Linked DNA regions of Homo sapiens. The protein of the gene in region 2 interacts with the protein of the main gene of each other region in a biochemical or structural test. Each region holds a gene or a part of one and is shown on either strand. Other genes may lie near its edges.

Evidence for each region. Proteins that work in one complex are often made in the same cells at the same time.
Region 1: the proteins of BOLA3 (region 2) and GLRX5 form a complex in vitro, tested with the Homo sapiens proteins (4 studies listed by BioGRID and IntAct, with this or other methods).

Annotation. Positions count from the first base shown.
Region 1 is NC_000014.9:95,531,055-95,538,071, reverse strand, and holds the start of GLRX5 (glutaredoxin-related protein 5, mitochondrial precursor), read right to left. Parts: upstream 3,023-7,017; 5' UTR 2,983-3,022; coding exon 2,688-2,982; intron 1-2,687.
Region 2 is NC_000002.12:74,144,904-74,151,798, forward strand, and holds the start of BOLA3 (bolA-like protein 3), read right to left. Parts: upstream 3,010-6,895; 5' UTR 2,972-3,009; coding exon 2,918-2,971; intron 401-2,917; coding exon 286-400; intron 1-285. UniProt on the Homo sapiens protein: Acts as a mitochondrial iron-sulfur (Fe-S) cluster assembly factor that facilitates (Fe-S) cluster insertion into a subset of mitochondrial proteins. Probably acts together with NFU1.

The DNA.
Region 1 (7,017 bases), on a different chromosome or scaffold from region 2:
ATACAATAGTTTCCATAAATTACAGGTGATTTTCCTTCTTTAAACTTTTCAGTGTTTTCTACATTGCTTCCATGAGCATAAGTTCCTTTATTAAGACCAGGATTAGGAAATGATGATGTCAGTCTACTGGGACCTGATCCCTTTGTGACTGTCTTCTGTGTGCACTCCAGATAAAAAGAGAAGGACAAGAAGGTCTTGAGAAGGCCAGAACACAATGCTGCCTCATAGTCACCTTTGTTCCTTGGGTCACAGTCTCAAGATGTGTCTGTATCACACTCCTGGGAACCCAGTACTCAAAACTAGGAAAGAATGTTTTCCTCCGGTTTAGGCACTTTGTAAAGTTCAGGTCTCCTTGGCATAAGAACCAACAAAAGGCCAGTTTTGCAAGAGCTCCGTTCCTATTACTAGAAATGACCTTGGATCTGGTGTACAAACATAGTTTCGGCTGGCAAAAGCAAGCATCGGACAGCCCGTTAGTTGCTCTTGGTAAATAAAGCTGTATAGGGAAGAGGGGAAGAGTCTTAATAACCTGGCTGAACTAATCCCCATTTGGGGAACGTGCTTTTACCACCCTGCCCAGTCCAAATGTTAATACTTACTAATCTTTACTTTTCTAATCAATAAAAGAGGTATGTTATATTCAATATATATGCAACGCGTTTATTAACCAAAATAGCAATCTGATGAAACTCAGTGGTCAAGGAATGTAAGGGTTAAATTCCTGTCGCTGCTGTTTGAAAACTTAAGAAAGTAAGCTCAGAAACCAGACACCAGACGTGGATAAAAGACAGAAAAATAAAATGTTATCAGTACATATTCGTATTTTTGCTCCTATTTTCCGTTTACTAGCTATATTCCAGCATATCTCATTTCCAGTTATATTAAACAAGAGAAAATAAATTCACAAACCAAAGACCCTCGAAACATGATACTAAGCGAGATAACAACACCACTTTTTTACTAGTGCCATATTGGCAATTTGCAGGGGACTCCCTGCAAGGTCTCTGTCAAAAGACTGCAAAATAGTTACTCCTCTTTTAAGCAGAGAAGCTGTCTTCGAAGGAAGACTGCAGGTCCCTTGCCTTGCACATGATAAAACTGAGCCCAGTAACTGGTGGCATACTAGTTGACAAGGAAGACAAAAGGGTCATGAGAATAACACATGGTAATATTACATATACGTGGTAATTTGAACCTGCCCTCTCGACTCCTCAACTCAACATGCTTTCTAGGTCCCACCCACCACCACTATCACCTACAGCAAATGGAGGATCAGTTATCCCCAAGAGTCTTTAAGGACTAGATAATCTGGGAAAAAATACATTTGAAAACCATCAAGTGCTAATACGAAGCCAGCTACCATTTACCGGGTGCTTTCTGTGCCAGGTAAAATAATACACACTTTCTATAATTTTTACTTTGGCTTCCTAACACAAACTTTGCCAAATTGTCTCATTATCCTCAAATGCAGGTGAGTGACTTAAGTTTTACACCTGATTAGCCACAGAAGAGGATGTCAACCCAAAGCTTTTCCAAACACCAGCCTGTCTCATCATTGTAAGCAATGACTATGATTAGTAATTTCGAATTTAGAGTAACAGAGAACCTGGCACCTATTTTTAGCACACAACTGGCACCTCTTTTTAGCTAGGGACATGCAGGGACTCAGTCACTGAAAGTCTCTAACTGGGATGCAGGTATCCTAAGTCACTCTCTAGAAGGAAAAGGTACAGCCTTCCCAGTTTTCCACCAACCCTGACCATCCTGGCCAAGGAGCAGGCCCTTGTGCCTGGCCTCTTCCTCCTCCCCTACTCAGATAAGACTGGCGAATGCACGTGGAGTACTTGGAAAAGATGCTTATTAGCTGCAGCCTTCCCTCTCCCGGCCTAATCCATCTGGTCCCTGGTGCCCTGGCCCCCTGGGCTCCAAGGCTGAGCCAGTGAGTTAGCCCAGGGCCCAGGAGCCAGGGCTGCTTCTTTTCCCCACAAACCTCTCCAAGCCCTGGCCCACATAAATTCAGCCCTGTGCTTGAGTATCTAAAGCCAAATGTCATGACTCTTCCCCGACAACATAGATCCCGACTAAGGTCAGCCGACAGCTGTCCCAACCCTTTGCTTGTAGCAACCACAGAGGATGATGCTTGACACCCTGAGCCGTGAGCCAAGCGAGATCAGCCTCCGACCTCACTAGCCTCAAGGGCAACCTCAGCCCTCTCCCCACCATCGACAGCCCTAGACCTTACCCACGAGTAGGCCAATGGCTTCCAACCTCCCCAAAGTGTCCGCGAAAGTACCTATCTCACAGTGGGTCCTTACTATGAGTTTCCTAACCGTGCAGAGCAGTCAGGCAGCGGGCCACCCTCCTCCGAGTCAGTCATTGACAAATCGCCCCGAAACGCCTATATTAGCTCGAAGTGAGGATAAGTGAACCTTTAGGACTTTACCTACTGCTCAAGTTGGCAACAGTACAGAGCCCCAGATCCTCAAGACCCAGTGAAATCAACTACACCCTCAGCCCAGACTCTACTCCAGGGCAGTACTCCTCGCCCTAACCCGGCTCGAACCTTCAGACAGACCCCGGCGGATGGAGCCCCGCTCCCCAGCCCGGCGCGGCGGAACCCCTCGGCCTCGTGCAGCGATGCTCCTGGGCCCGGGGCGGAGGGCGCCTGCCCGGCACACTGGCCTGACCTTGTCGGAGCTCCGGGTCGTCCAGCACGTTGTAGGCCGCGTAATCGCGGACGCCGTGCAGCCGCAGGATCTGCACCACGGCGTTGCTGAAGCCGCACTGGGGCTGCTCCGGCGTCCCCTTGAGGAAGACCACCACCTTGTCCTTCTTCACCAGCGCGTCCAACTGCTCCGCCGAGCCGCCGCCGCCCGCGCCCGAGCCCGCCGCCCGCACGCCCGGACCCCAAAGGCCACCGCCGCCCGCGCCGCGCCCCCAGCGGAGCAGAGCCGCCGCAGCTCGGCCGAGGGACCCGCTCATCTCCGCACGCAAGCCGGAGCCCACGACGGCCCGGGCCCACAGCTGGCCACCCAGAGCGCTCCCCGGCCCGCGGCAGTCCGACCCGCCCCCTGGAGGCCCTCATTGGGCCGGCTCTAAACTGCCCTCCGTGATTGGACAATACTGATCAGTAATTACTCGATTCCACCAATCATGTTGCTCGTCCCGCCCGGCAGGTAGGAGGTGGGCCTTATGCCGGAGCCTCATCCTACTGCCTTACTATTGGTCGTCGGCAACCGCTTTGTTAGTTAATTGGAGAGACTGGATGTCCATCAGGGTCACGCTTGCAGGGCAACGAGAGGCAAAACAAGAGGGAAGACGACTTTCCTCCTGTGAGCCAATGAGGCCAGCTGGACTACGCCGAGACAACTGGGAGAGGCGCGGGACTCGCCCGTTCCGCGGAACGCCGGGAAGGGGTCACCTCCTGATGAAGTTTCCGGTTCCGGTGTCAGCGGCGGTTGAATTGCCATGGCAATGCGGTGGGCGCGCGCTTGTCGTGTTGGTCTCTTGGGAGGTAGCGGGGCTAGGCCGGGCGGGTATCCGCCTCTCCCAGCTTAGGTGAGCGTCCCCGGGCGCCTCCGGAGCGCCGCGGCCGCATGCAGTTCGTCGTGGCGGGGAGCCGGAGCCTGACCGGGGTTCCAGCGCTCGGGCCGTAGCCTTGGCTCCTGGACTTTCCCTGGCTCCGCCGCCACGTGGGAGCTGAGGCTCTGGGGCTTCCGCCTCCGGCGCGCGATTATTTCTCTAGAACAGTTTTCATTTTTAAAATTTGTAAAGCGCTTTTGCCTGTGTGATTTCCTCTGGGTTTTTTTTTTTTTTCTTCCTTTTTGTAGAGACGGAATTGGCGGCGGGGGCGGGGGGTCGATGTCTCACTTTTTTGCCCAGGCTGGTCTCGAACTCCTGGCTTCAAGGGATCCTCCTGCCTCGGCCTCTTAAAGTGCTGGGATTACAGGCGTGAGCCACCGCCCCCGGCCGCCTCTGAGTTTCCAGCCTCGTTGGCCCTCCAGCCTTTTAACCTGTTGGGCCTAGGATCAGGAAAGGTTTGTTGAATGGGGAACTAAGAAGTGAATTCGTTCGTTCGACAAACGTTTCCTGAGCAGCCGCTGGGTGCTAGGCGCAGTGCCAGCGCGGAATGTCCAGGGAGACCTGGTGCCCAAAGCTTGGACCCATCGTGAGAAATGAGAAGCAGATACAAAGCAGTGTGGGAGTGCAGAGGAGACAAAGCAAGCCTCATCAGGCCCATTGCTTGCTCTGCTCTCCCTTGTACTTACCAGTGCTTGACAATATACAGTTATTTACTAGCTTGGTTATTGACTTCCTACCCAGCACTCAGTTTTATTCACTGCTGTATCCTCAGTGCCTAGGACGATGCTTGGAACGTGGTAAGTGCTCCTATTGGCGGGAAGAATAAATCCGGAAGAGCAGGACCAGTGGACTTGCTACATAATCTGTAGTCTTGGAGCCGCACAGGGTTGGTGGTACCCTCGAGCACACCAGACTTGCAGAAAAAGCATACTCCAGAGGAAGCTGAGGCATGCCTGCTCGAGAGCCAGCTGTTCCATGTGCAATTTTCCTCTGATAGTTTCTGGTCACTGTTGCCACGGTGATAATGACTGGGCTATGTCATTATCTATCCGCCAACAGTAAGAGAAGCTTTGCAGTCGAGATATTGTTTAGCAGATGGAGTGTTTTCTGTTGAACACTAAGTACTGCCACAAGTTACTTTTTTTTTTTTAAACTTTGAGTATTTTTTTACAATGTTGCTGGAGGTGATCTGTTTATGCTTTGAGAGTGTTCGAATTTAAAATCAGAAAATCATGTCAGTGAGTGAGTCTTTCAAATAATCCTTCGGCATGAAACCTGAGCCTAGTAAACTATGAAAGTAAACTCGGCACATTACCCGAAAGTCTCAATGTCATATTTTCACCCCCATCAATATTATTGATGATTGCTCATTTTCTAATGTGGGACCTGAAATTTACCAGGTGCTTAAAGAATCTTTTTGTTTTTCAGATTCATTGATTCCAGGTAAATCAGAGGAACAAGCAACATGAACAGAAATATGTAGAAAAAGCTATTATGCAGAAGCATAATTGTTGTTTCAGAAGTCCAGCATCTGGTGCACTTAACAATAGAGAATATATTAAACTCTTTCCAAAATAACCTGTTGTTCCTACCTGTGTTGTAAGTGTTTTGTTTGTTTTTAAGTAAATATTGGTGATTTGTTGCCAAAAACCTAAACTGTTTGTTGCTGTCAACTTAAATAACGAACAGAGAGAGGCTCTCTAAAAGAAAATGGCATTTATTCAGGAATAGAGCACTGCAATGAGAAAATGCATGCGATAGTTAACTGTGTGTATCCTGGGAGATAGAGGAAGACAAAGGTCTTTAAAGGAAAAATGAGGAGGGTTACATAATTGTTTTGAGATAATTATTTTTGACTACAAGGATCAGTAACAAAGGTGACACCAGTCCCAGGTTGGACAGGCAGGTGCTCGGCAGGCATTGCAGAAGTATTTTTTGTGTAAGATTGAGATGGCCTTTGTGCAGGATTGTGGTTTTGGAATCTTCTGTGATCGTTTTTGCTATCAGGCATTTATGCTTGCGAACTCTTTATGGCCTTCCCTGTGTCTATTTTGATTCCACCTTTCTCATTGCCCACTCTAAACTGTAATTCTGCTTTTATGTTGACTGAGATCAGGAGAAGAATTTGCAAACTTATATCCTGAGACAGAACAGTAATGAGGAGTATCGTGTTCCTTACCTAATGTATAATATTGGGCTCAGAAGCAGTTGTCTTTTTTATTTGTTGAACGTTGTATTAAGTTGAGAATGCAGCTGCCATTAAAGATTAAGAGTAATCCTTGAGAAGGAAGAGTACAAAGCCTGTGTTTTGCTAAATCATAGTGAAGTTGCCGTGTTTTTGTAGAATATGATAAGAACATACAGTGTGTGAAATGCTAAGGATATGGAAAAGCATGTTGGTGCTCTTTCAAGGAGCTATTTTGATAGCATGAGCAAGGGCAGGAAACAGATCATGTATCTGAACCAAAGAAATTGAAACAATACATCTAAATTTAAATTTTTAATAAAACAACCCAAAATATAGTGAAATACTTAGCACCAAACATCAGTGATCTTAAGAAGCAAAGAAAACAGTATTCAAAATACTTCGTCCAAAGTATCAGACTTTTGCATAAAGTTTGGCATTTTGGTTTTGAGATTCCTCTTTAGTCCTATGATGAAAACATGACAAAATATACATCTTAAATAAACAGTTGTCATCAGTCTGCATCTATGACCAGATGTTTTGGGTGTTTTGAGTAAATGGCCTGTCTTAGCATGTGATGGCTTCCTGCCTCGTGAACATTAGTGAAGAGGTGAGGGTGGGAAGTACTCAGGAACTTCTGAGAATCCTGGGATTTGAGTCACAGGATTGGTTAAACCCCAAACTAAATAATCATGCCGTGTAAACATGCTGACTCAGGCATCCTAAAAATGTTTTTCTTCCTTGTGTTTATTTATAGATAAGGCTTTACTATATTTGGTAGAACTCCTGTTTTCTATCCACTTCTCCAAAAACAAATTCGCCATTGAATTCATCGTGTAAACCTCCACATATCTGAGATAGCTTCTTCCGTTTATCAGCCCCAAATGAAGAACTAGAGTTCAGATTATTGAACTGAAGGTGATGCTTTATCTGAGCACTCCACATGTCAGTGTTTCTGTACCTTTACTTTTTTAAAAAATTATTTTTTAAAAAGATGAGGTCTCAGTAGGTTGCCCAGACTGGTCTCCAACACCTGGTCTCGAATACTCCTCCCGCCTTGCCCTCCCAAAGTGCTAGGGTTACAGGTGTGAGCCGCCGCACTGGCCCTGTTCATTTTATGCTCAGTGCTGCATTCTTGTTTGTTCTTAGAAAATGAGAGGGTGTGTTTGCATGAGAACGTGTGGTACAGAAGTGTCTATCTGAGCTGGCCAGAACATTCTGCAAATGTCATATTAAGGGCAAAATGGCTG
Region 2 (6,895 bases):
GACCTCAGCTCTAGGGTGACTGAGAGGGACCTTGTCTGAGCTGAGCCAGGCTGGCAACCTTGAGTCCTCCCAGCTGCGCCTTGTCCTCAGTTTCCCTCTGATATTTCTGAATCCTGACTGCCATCCCATGAGGTGGGGGCAGCCGAGCTCCACCTGTCCAGCAGCAACACATCTTGAGAAGCCACTCACCAGCAGCAAGCCCCCTCCTCCAAGCCCCTGACCCTCTGTCCTTCCAAAGGGCAAAATCTTATCCAAGCGCCGTAGGAAGAGTGAGAGAAACCTTACCTGAAATGTCAGTGACTTTTATAGCTGTAGCTCGTGGAAACTTTTCTTTGAGAATTTGGGTCACTCTGAGCTCCCCCTCAGTCTGAGTGGCAAACATCCGATGGTGAAGTGGAAGCTGCCACAGAACAGAGAGGAAGGTCAGGGCAGAGGAAGATGCTGTTGCCCCTGAGCTGGGCCACTGTGCAGGCCCGCCTGCCATTCCCCCTGCAAGGCAGGCCCCTGAGCCCTCGCCAGCACAGCCATGGGTTATGTCAGAGGGGCTCTGTGGTATCAGGAGTCCATGTAAGTGCCCCAAAACACAGAATAAACTTTTATTGGCGGGGACAGGATGATTGTTAATAACTCAATTTGACTCCAGAGACAAGAGGCCCCAAACCTAATTCAAGAGATGTTTGCTTCCATATAATGTTGTGACACTATTATGCCGATAGTTTTATAGGTAAGGAAACTGAGGCACACAGTAATGTGCCCAAGGTTGAATTCGGTAAGATACAGAGCCAGAAAAGCTGGATAGCCTGCCTCAGATCCATACCACTAGGCCATCCACTGCCCTGGATGGTGGGGCCAAATTCCACACTCCCTCGCCTTTAGGCCTGATTAACATGTCTCGCCCTCCCCAGTGGGATGTGACCTCACAGCCCACTGCTCAATTAGCCAGCTATCCTTCATCATGCACTCCTTCTCACTGGGAGCAAAGTCAGAATTCTATGAAAGAACCTGAAGAAGGAGTATCTGTAGGTTGTTTACCATTGGCAACAACACCCCTTCCCCAATGGCTACCATGGGGGAACCTGTGTTTGTGTTTCCTTTTTTTTTTTTTTTGAGACAGAGTTTTGCTCTGTTACCCAGGCTGGAGTGCAGTGGCACAATCTCAGCTCACTGCAACTTCCACCTCCCGGGTTCAAGCGATTCTCCTGCCCCAGCCTCCTGAGTAGCTGGGATTCCAGGCACCCACCACCACGCTCGGCAAATTTTTGTATTTTTAGTAGAGATGAGGTTTCACCATGTTGGCCAGGCTGGTCTCAAACCCCTGACCTCAGGTGATCCACCCACCTCAACCTCCCAAAATTCTAGGATTACAGGCATGAGCCACCACGCCCGGCCAGGGGAGCCCATGTTTCTGATGGAACACGTCTCAACAGTTAGTAGTGAAGGAGCAGAAAAGCAGGTCGGCAGTCACTTGGCTGGGCTGAGTGCATGCTGAAAAGGCAGACTGGGAATGGAGTGTGGCAGGCCTTGAATGCCAGGCTAAAGATTGTGGACTGTATGGGACAGGAGATGGGACTCCAGGTGATAGAACCCAGGCTCATGGGACCAAAGTAACCTGCAGGAAACAGTGCCTTCTGGAGCGAGTCAGGAGAGATGCCCAAGTAAGAGGCATTACAATGATGGAAGCACCGGGCACTGGTCCCTGACTAGACGTGGATGACAGGTTGGAGGACACTAGGGCCGTTCATGGGTGCTGGTGCTGAAGGTCCCACCCCTCTACCCCTCAGTCCTTCCTGATAGCTCAGAGCAGGGTCCTGTGTCACAGAATCTCAGAGCACCTCCTTTAAAATGAGCTGTGCACTGGCTCTCTCACCACTGGTCTTATAGGCCAGGAATGAGTCCGGCAGCATCCCAGAGCTGACCCCAGGGCAGGCCCTCAGAGGCACTTGGTGCTGGATGAATGAATGAGCAGGGGAAGAACTAGTCAATTAGGGACAGAAATGCAAGACAGGAGAAAGGTCCAGAGTGTGATTGTCTGCCTGCTGTGTGGAGGGACAGAAACTCGATGTTGAGAGGCTGGACAGGATTGCCAGGAGTGAGGGTGGGGTGGAGCTGCTTCTGGGGGCAGAATCTTGAGGGTAAAGGCAGAGAGTAACCAGATGGCAGACAGAATCGGCAGCTACTAAGGGGTGAGAGAGGTGAGCGTTGCAGAATCCTTGGGAGAAGCCTTTCATCTTAGCGGATCTGTGGGCAGCGGCCTTTAGTGGAACAATCAACTGACATCCCCAGATGATCACTGTCCACGCTGAAAGTCACCGCAGTGGAAGAACTTCTCTTCATGCACAGGGCAGGCAGGTTCAGAACCAGGGGAGAAGGAAAATGAAAGTTAAGAGAAAGAATGGTATGAGCTGAAGCAAAGGATGGTTCAGAAAGGGGGAGAGATTAGGAGAGCGCGTGGGAAGTGCCCCCTGCTTGGGTTCTGCTCCGGTAGTGTGGGATTTGGAGGAGGATCAAGGTCAGAGGCCCAGTCGACCTTCCCAAGGCCCCGGCCCCGCTGCAGTCCCTCGCACCCACGCCTTGACTCTGGGCTATGACTCCTGTCTTCTGCTCGGTAAACCAATCCTTTTTTTTTCCTGTGCCCGCAGTATTATGACTGTTCATGTGTCTGTCCGCCTGACCTCCAACCTCCACCCAGCTCGGGAGCTCCCCTAGAGCGCGCCAGAGCTTGAAATTTCGAATGCCGTTGTCGCTGAGTGAATGAATGAATGAAAGAATGAATGAGAGAAAGGAAGAGGAGCCCCCCATTGCCAGTGCCGCGCGCGCCCTCCGGGAGCCAGTCCTCAAGCCCCGACAGCCGCCGGCCCCGCGGTCCCTCCGCAGCTCCCGTCCCGGGGAGAGCAGCCCCGACCCTGCCCACGCTCACCCCGCGGATCCCGCGGAGGAGAGGCGCTGCCGCGGCCGGGCTCCATGCAGCCATGCCCGGCCGACGTGACCCGCCGCCCGAGGTCACTGTATGCCCGAAAGACGCGGAGCGGGGGACCGAGAGCCGCCGCCGTGGGAGAGGCCGCCCCCTGCCGCCCGGAGGCCGTCAGCCTCCCGGCCCCGCCCCGGAGGCCTCCGGTCGCCTGGCTCCGGCCCCACCCCGCCATCCCCTGGCCCTGGCTGACTCGCCACCCCCGACACTGCAGCGCCTGCCGACCTCGGGGCCCCGCCCTCTGCCTTCGCTCGCGCCGCTCTCCTTCAGTCTCCCCAGGGCCTGTTTCATGGATAGGGTCCCCTTGCCCGCGTGAAAGTCTCATTCCTCCTCAGCTCAGAAACACTCCAAGGTCTCGGCGCCCTATACTGGCCTTCCCTCATCCGAATACCCCTCGTGCTCCTGATGTACTTTTCCATTCCCACTCCCTACTCTGGCAGTCTAGCTTCTAAGCTGAGGAGTTTGGCCTTCGCTCCAGGTGCGGGGACTCGTGGAAGGATTTGATTCGCGCTTGAGAAAGATCGCTCCGCTCCTGTAAGGAAGAGAGCGTGTAGGGGCTGCAACCAGAGACACAGTCAGAAGCTCCGAGGCTACCGCGATGGTCCAGGTGAGAATGGAGGGGCCTAACTAAACCAGTGGCGGGAGGGATGGAAGAATGAACTGAGACACTTGGGAGGTGAATGGAATCGAGCGACTGCATGTGGAGGTGTGAGTGGGAAGGTATCTGAGATGACTCCAGTTTCTGGCTTGGACAATGACTTGGATGGAGGGTTAGGTGGGGGCTGAGCAGAGTCCACGAACAGTTCTTAATTTGCCTGAGTTTAAGGTGCCACAGGACACAGCCTAACAGAGGCCCAGGTTGGAGCCATGGACCATGGAGTCATGAGAATGGAAGGGAAGCTGACGCCATGTGGGATGGGGTAGAACTGTCCGCAAATTCGTCCCGCCTCTGGAGTCTTCAGACCAGTCAAGGCCGAAATTCAACCAAGCCTCTCCTCTCTCTAGCTGTTATTTGTTTGCAGCACGCGGTCTGGTGGCACCCTGCAGGATTTACCAGCTTTTTGCCAACATTCTGGCCTATGCAATCAATACGTCCCTTCAGCGTTGCACTTGGATGGATTGGACCTATAGTTGTTATATATGGATATTGTCTAATTTATTTATTACAGTATTAACTGACTCCTATGTTCTGGCCTTCAGAATTTCTCCTTTGGATCAATTACTAGCCTGTCTTACATTTTCTGCTTCATTCTTTTAAAATGTTTAGAGATGATTTGCTAAGTTTTCTTCATTGCTGTCAATGATGCAATTTAAACTGTCAAAAAAATTTTTTCTCAAGCAGGGTAGTAATGGTGAACCATTCCCTTGCTATTCAGACAGCATGGTTTAGATGAGGCGCACCTATCCCCAGCTTTAGGAATGGAAACAGGACCCAAGTCTGGCTAATCAGAGACTGGTTTAGGGTCGGCCCCATGGTCTGAGCCAGACCAATGAGAATTGGTAGAGGGACTTCCTTTTGCAACTTCTATTTTAGAATCGGGGGTATATATGCAGGCTTGTTACAGAGGTATATTGCATGGTGCTGAGGTTTGGAGTATGAACGAATCCGTCCTTCAGGTAATGAGCATAGTACCCAATAGGTAGTTTCAACCCTTGCCCCCTTCCTCCTTCCCCAGTCTTGTATTCCCCAGTGTCTGTTGTTCCCAGACATTGATCTTTTTCCTCTATGTTGCTAAGCTGGTAGAAAGGCTGGAGTTGCTGGCAACCATCTTTGCAACCATGCAGGGAGAACTACTTTGGAAATGAAGCAAGATAAAGAAGAAAACAGATAAAAGGAGACAAATGTTTGACTTTGTACAGCTGGAAACCAGCAATGCTGGAAATGAGCACTGAAGGCAGTTTAATGGGTTTGTCACTTGTAACCAAGTGACCCATGGCAAGCTCACAGATTTGTATTGGCAGAATTCCTCCTTTTCTTTATTTAAAATGGTACTTTTGGCCAGGCAAGGTGGTTCACACCTGTAATCCAAAGACTTTGGGAGGCCGAGGCGCACTGATCACCCAAGGTCAGAAGTTCGAGAACAGCCTGGCCAACATTGGCGAAACCCCATCTCTACTAAAAATACAAACCATTAGCTGGCTGCGGTGGCCTTTCTACCAGCTTTTTGTCTCAAAAAAAAAAAAAAAAAAGGTACTTTTGCTTATCTCTAACCTTCCTCTTCCCCATAATTTAACAGTTGCCCATACTATCTGTTACTCTGAGCTACTCTCTGCCCCATTCTCCTCCTCTTATCTTCAGTTCCTCCTAGGCTGTCAGAGCCATCTGAAATGAAAACATTTAGGCCGGGCATAGTGGTTCATGCCTGTAATCCCAGCACTTTGGGAGGCTGAGGCAGGCGGATCAGCTGAGGTCAGGAGTTCAAGACCACCCTGGTCAACATGGTGAAACCCCATCTCTACTAAAAATACAAAAATTATCCAGACATGGTGGCACATGCCTCTACTCCCAGCTACTTGGGAGGCTGAGGCAGGAGAATCGCTTGAACCTAGGAGGCAGGGGTTGCAGTGAGCCGAGATTGAGCCACTGCACTCTAGCCTGGGCGACAGAGTGAGACTTTGTCTAAAAAACATAAATAAAATAAAATGAAATGAAAACATTTGCTACTTGAAATCCTTCAGATTCCCCATCGCCTACCTACAGGCAAAACTCTCAAGTTCTTTTGTATGATTTAACCACTATCTACCTGTCCAACTGAAATCTACCCTTCAGTAATATTATACTTGCACCTCCCTTCATAAGCTATGCTACAAGTTTGGTTATGCAGTTGCCCACCTTTTAAGGTTCAAGCCTTGTCTTCTCCAAAGAGCCACCTCTGACTGCCTCACAGTAAGCTTAGGGCCCGCAACTTACCTGTAACTTTTGTTGCACTTATGGCCTTTTACAACTATCAATTTATGTATGTGTCTGTTCTCACTGGTTTATAAGCTCCCTGAGGACAGAGCCTTGCTTGAGTCATCTGTCAGCAGCCCAATATGGGACAAAAAGTGCATGCATTGTAATTACTGAACAGAACTGATAGAGGCTCAGCAATTTGCGCTCCATAGGTCTAAGTTTGAACTTTTCTAGAAAAGGATTTGCAGGACGATCTGACGAATCTTGGGCTTCCAAATTAGTTCCAACAGTTCTAGTATTTTTTTTTTTTTTTGACAGAAGCAAATAAGTAAGTTTTACTTTGTGATTAAAACAAAAGTGAAATGCATTTAGTCCCAGGAAATGTCAATCCTTTCTGCATCTTACTTTTTTTTGCTGTGACCTCGAGATTCTCTTGTTCTCTTCAGTTGTATTGGTCCATGATCACTCATAGCTTTCATACACATATATACATCTGAAACTCAGAAAATTCATTAGGTAGGAACTCTTTGGATGCATCTCCTTTTTTAACCTCATTGGGATGATTTTTCGTTGCACCATCATTTTATAGAGCTTCCTAGCACTGCTGAGCATGCAGAATTTTTGCAAATGCAATCCAGAGAAACAGACTTGCTATATACTAGCTATTTGAACTTGTCTGAGCTTATGTGGCATGGTCTAAAGAATACTGAAATATTTCTGGCATACCTCTTAATTGCAGTCACTTTCTCCAGGTTGCTTTATGGATTAAATGAGATAACCTACTAAAGGACTCCAGTAAAAAGCTAAAAAGGTAGCTAGCTTTTGAGGTGTTGTGGCAGACTGGCATCTAGTGGCCAGCGATAAAGGTGCAGACTAGTGTCCACACCTAAGTGGGGACAGTGCAGGCTGTAATGTCCATACCTAGTGGGGACATCAATGGGGTATTTGTCAGAGAAGCTCCATGGCATAGTTTGGACATTGTTTCTGGCTGTGCAGGTTCAAACCCAGAGTCTGGCTCTCCCAAAGATTATCTG